Regions from separate parts of the Homo sapiens genome. Here region 1 is linked to region 2. Evidence: fine-mapped expression QTL. Tissue or cell type: blood mononuclear cells. Region 2 holds a variant in brackets; the other region holds the start of a gene. All regions are shown on one strand. Distances are between the middles of the regions.

Evidence for each region. PIP is the estimated chance that this variant, and not a neighbour inherited with it, causes the effect.
Region 1: VOPP1 starts here. The variant in region 2 is fine-mapped to the expression of VOPP1 in blood mononuclear cells (TOPMed, PIP above 0.99). The same link has a PIP of 0.9 or more in T cells and whole blood.

The regions. Positions count from the first base shown.
Region 1 is chr7:55,571,326-55,573,825 of GRCh38, forward strand. It overlaps VOPP1 (VOPP1 WW domain binding protein), which reads right to left and starts at 1,177. Exons shown (of 5, transcript NM_030796.5): 1 at 946-1,177. The coding sequence starts at 999. VOPP1-DT (VOPP1 divergent transcript) reads left to right here and starts at 1,441. Exons shown (of 17, transcript NR_187585.1): 1 at 1,441-1,992. RefSeq lists an enhancer at 171-230 and a silencer at 431-1,410.
Region 2 is chr7:55,464,745-55,467,485 of GRCh38, forward strand. It overlaps a transcript of VOPP1 not described here. Among named protein-coding and RNA genes, the nearest start is that of LANCL2, 100 kb to the left of the region's middle. The variant T/C (reference allele first, on the strand shown) is at 1,410.

The DNA.
Region 1 (2,500 bases), 110 kb after region 2:
CCAGCACCAATCACTAACTATTAAGGAAGATAGTTTCACAACTTCCTAAAACAGAGGCATGGGATTCATTACCTATTTCTTTTGACTTCATTAATTTAACGCAAATTTCCTTCAGAATAATGAAACTAAGGAGAAAGTTGAACAAGCCCTGATTCAGACTGGACACCCCAGAATTCCTCTAGTTCGCATTTTAAGGAACCTGCTTTAGTGAGAAGTATGTGGCCCCATCCGAGGATGCAATTTCACAGCCAGGAGCAGCCGCGGTCCCCGCCAGGGATGCGGTCACGGGCGCTCGCACCCGGAAGCCGCTCAACAAGTTCCCCGCCGGCTTCGGCTCCGCACCCCCACCCAGCCAGGCTCTCCGCAGAATTTCCTCCCCGCACCTAAAGGCTGCACTTCATTTTCACACGCGGGAACGCCTCCTCCCGCTGCTCACCTCCACAACTCCCGGCACTCCCGCGACACTTCCCCACAGTCCCCTCCGCCCGCTCCCCTCACCCCGGCTCGGCACCCATCCTTTCCTAACCCCAAACTGCCCGGCGCCCCGGGCTCTCCGCGCCTGCGCCGCGCCCGAGGACCACCCCCGCCCAACCCCGGGTCCATCCGATCCTCGGCCCTCTGCGGCGGGGAGAGGGGGCGGACGGTGCACAAAGGTCACCCCGAGCTAACGGAGGCGGTCGGCGCGGGAAACGCGCTCACCCGCAGGGTGGGGGCGGGGTGCGAAAACCGAAGGAACGACGGAAGGCGCGGACCGGGGCGGGAGCCTCCCCGTCACCAGGGTCCCGCACCTCCCAGCTCCGGGAGGCGCGCAGGGCTGTGGCTCCCCGTCGCTCCACCGTCTGCGCTCCCAGGCAAGGTCCTCTGGGGCGCCTCGGAACTGCGCGCCCCCAGCCGCCAGCATGGTGGGCGCCGCGCCTCCGGCAGCACCCGGTCCCCGGCCCCTACCTCCAAGAGCAGCCCGAGCAGCAGCGCCGCCACCTTCGCAGGCTGGCGCCTCATGGCTCCTCGCGTCCTCTCCAGCGCGCCCGGACGCCGGGTCGCAGGCGCGCTTCGCGACTCGGCCCCCGCGCGGGGCGGGCGGGCAGACTGCAGCCGGGAGCCGTCCCGCCGACCGCTGGGGGGCCCGGCTGGGAGCGGGCGGGAGCCGGGGCGCGCCGCGCAGCCCTGGCTGCGCTCCGCCCCCGGCCGCCGCGCGCTCCCGACACGCCCGGCCGGGCGCGCGCCTGCGGGCTCCCGGAACCCGAGGCCCGGCCTGGGGCGCGGCTGCTGGGCGCTAGGCCCGCGACGCTGAGGTGCGCGCGCCCCGGGCGGGAGGAGGGGCTGCACCGCCTGGCGAATGGGAGGGGGACTGGCAGGCTCTCCCTTCCCAAGGGAGGTCGTCCTGTCGCCCTAGACTAAACCCAGGAAGGCTTTTAAAAGAAGCAGAGTCTCCGCGGGGGGAAGCTTGTTCCCTGAGAGGTGGCCGCAGACGAACCCACTGCTCAGTCTGGCATCCCGAAGCCGCTCCGCTCCTGGCTCTCCCCGCTGTTCCTGCGCGCAGCGGGGGCAGTGCCCCCACACCCACGCGTGATGGGAAGGCCGGCCTGGGGGTGGGAAGGCCCACCGAAATAGATGGTCCCCACACCTCACTGCTTCCTTGGATGTGGCTATTTTTTATGCCAGTGTTCTCCTGCTCTGACCCTACTTGAACTTGACCGCAACCGGCCCCGCCTTGCAGGCCACCCTCCCGCAGCAGAAAACTGTGCGGAGCTCGCGCTGTCCTCGCCTCCGCTGACCCCACCTCCATGTCCTCACAGACACTATTTTTTCACAACACAGCTCAGATCCCACCTTCTTCATGAGGTTATTCAACAAACACTATTAAACTTGTAAGATGTACCAGATCCTGAGTTGGAGGCTGAGAGGAGGACAAGAAAACTGCTCCCGTAGCCTAGAGGGAGGGAGAGTCGCTTAAACCACCTGATGCAGAATGCTGAGTGCGGAGACCAGGAGGTGGGTGCATCACAGAGGGTCATAAAGGACATGAGCTGCGCAGTACAGGAGGTGGAAGGAGGGGGTCACACGAACAGATGTCACCCGAGGCAAGTCCCCAACTCTTTCCCAGCTTTCAAAGCCTAATTTGATTAATATAGAGCATGCACCACCTGACTATACCTGTCAGAGCCAGAACTTACAAGTAAGACAGAAACAATGCCTATGGCCTTCAGTCATGCTAAGGCACCTATCTGACAAGCCTGCCAAACGCCATTGAACTCTAGTAGTTTTACTATTTACAATGAGGACATTTTACAACTCTTTTTAATGGAAAAGTTAACTTGTAGAAAACTAAGCTGAAAGCTTATTGTGTGTTAGCAAGACAAATGTTTTTCCAGTGGGGATAGAAGTGATCTCGTCCTGTAAAAATGCAAATGGGCCAGGCAGGGTGGCTCATGCCTATCATCCCAGCAGTCTGGGAAGCTGAGGTGTGAGAATTGCTTGAGCCCAGGAGTTCACCAACCCC
Region 2 (2,741 bases):
GTCCCGGGGAAGGATGTAGTCTGGTGGAGGCTGGCCTCTCAAAATAATGCCATGCTGCAGGTGTCTTGATCTTGGGGTGTGTGGGGGACCCAGAGTGAAGTTCTTCTCTGGACTAATGGCATTGGAGGACTTGAGGATGCTCCTTAGACTAGTCTCAGGGCCCACAAGGGCTGAGGGGCTCTCCTGTGGCTAGGACTGTAAGAGTCAGTGTGGCAATGTAGACTGCTGAAGATCTCTTGCTTACCTTCTCTCTGCACTGGGGGGTTTCTCCTGGCTCCGAGCTGATTGCAGCTGGACCAGCTGCTTTGCTTCCCTCTCCTTCCAAGCCTCAGATGTTCCCTGTCACTTCTCTGATGAATTCCATTGTTCTCTTAGAAGCTCCACTTGTTATGTGATTGTTCAGTTTTGGTCCTTCTTTGTGCAGAAGTGCCAGGTGTCGCTAGTCAGCTATCTTGAAACCCTTCTCTCTGGATGTACAAAATACTGTTTACACTTCGAGGTTTGTTCTGGGATGCTCGCAGATCTCATCCCATATAAGTAGTGAGGGAAAAAAGAGGTGGTTGCCTAAGGTTTCTCCTTCTATCTCTGATTGGCTCAACATCCACTGGGCAACACACATCAACCTTTCAAGACAAGAACGGTAGGTGATGTGTGGAGTGGTGATGGTGTATGTGAAAACCCTTGGCTTCCTTTACATGATCGTAGTCTGAAAGATGGAGACTACATGGAGAATGTCTCAAGAAAATTCCTCCTTTCACACTCCTCTGACGATACCACAGACCGACTCCTCACAGATGAGCAAAAGCTTGGGTGGGAGCTTATTTCTTCTCCCACTGTGCTTCAACTTCTCAAGGAATTGTAGAATGAGAGAGAGCAGAGGATTTTTAATATTTGCTGATTATCCACTATGTGCAAGCTTCGTATAAACAATAGGTAGTATAATCTCCATTTTATAGTTGAGGAAACTGAGACTGGAGATTAAATCATTTGCTGGAAGACACAAAGCCAGTAATTAGTAGACTCAGGACTTGAGCAAGACTGTCCATCTTCAGAGCCCACAGTCTTTCCATGACACCAGCAATGCACAGTTAGGTCCACAGGGACTCTCTCACATCTACTCTGTGCTCTCATTCTTGGCATCCAAAGAATGTTAGGCACTGAGAACCGCTATGGACTGAATGTCTGTGTCCCCCCAAATGTCATATGTTGAAACTGAATCCCCACTCCGATGGTGTTTGAAGGTGGGCCCTTTGGGAAATGAAGTCATGAGGGGGAGGGAGCCCTCATGAAAGGGATTAGTGGCCCCAGAGAGAGAACCCCTCACCCTTTCTGCCAAGTGACTGTGCAGCAAGAAGACAGCCATCTATGAACCACGAAGCAGACACTCACCAGACACCGAACCTACTGCA[T/C]TCCTGACCTTAGACTTCCGAACAGCCTCCAGAACTCTAAGAAATAAATTTCCTTTGTTTATAAACCACCCAGCCTATGGTATTTTGTTATAGCAGCCTGAACACATTGTGACAAGAATTCAAGCTACTAAGGATCACTTTAGCTGAGAAATGCTTGGGCAATTGGGTAGAAAGGCTGGCATAGTGCAAGTCAGAAAACTTCAGAGTCAAAATGGAGGGAGGGACTCCTCTCCCCTCCTACAGAGTGACAGAAAGGAGGGAAGAGTTCTGCTTTATGACAAAGCATTTTAAATAGCACGCAGATCCTCTAGAAAAGGATGCAGAGCCACAATGTGGGCAGAGGCTCGGGGACTGAGGGGGGAAACCAGAAGCTGAGTTTCTTTCCTCTAGTGCCAGAGAAATTTTCCAAGGTGGGATTGGGATTGTGGTGAATGACCTTGGATTGAGATCCAGGGGCTGTGGGAAAGCCATAGGAGCCCCAGACTATGAACATCTTATTTTTTTAATTTAATTTTTTAAAAAAGAGATGGGATGTCACTATGTTGCCCAGGCTGGTCTCAAACTCTTGGGTTCAAGTGATCCTCCTGCCTCAGCCTCCCAAAGTGCTGAGATTACAAGTGTGAGCCACTGTGCCTGGCCCAACTATGAACATTTTAATTGATAAATTAGAAAATGTTCAAAACACTTAAAATTGGGTAGTGATGCCAACAGCCCACCTCACCCATGCCAGGAGCCTTACCATGTTAAGCAGTGGTCCCAGCCTTTTTGGCACCAGGGACTGGTTTTGTAGAAGACAATTTTTCCACGGACCAGGGGGTGGTGGGGATGATTTCAGAATGAAACTTCCACCTCAGATCATTAGGCATTAGATTCTCATAAGGAGCATACAACCTAGACCTCTCTCCTGCACAGTTCACAATAGGGCTCACATTCCTATGGGAATCTAATGCCACTGCTGATCAGACAGGAGACAGAGCTCAGGTGGTAACGCTTGCTTGCCACTCACCACCTGCTGTATGACCCAGCTCCTAACAGGCCACAGAGCAGTACTGGTCTGCAGCCTGAGGGTTGAGAACCCCTGACGTAAAGCACCCCCTTTGTGAGAAAACAAGCTCTGGGCCTTTAATTCCTGCAGCCAGCTGCTCTGTGCACATGGGGTGAGGGGCAGGAGGGAGTCAGGCAGGAGACCTCTGGTCCCTGGCACAGCTATTCTCGCAACAGCCATTGGTCAATCTCCCCGGTCCCTACCACAGCCCCTCTGCTCTCTGTACCTGCCGGCCTCAATGCGGAGCCTCTCTGAGAAACAGCTCCTCCCTCGCCAGCCACCTTCTG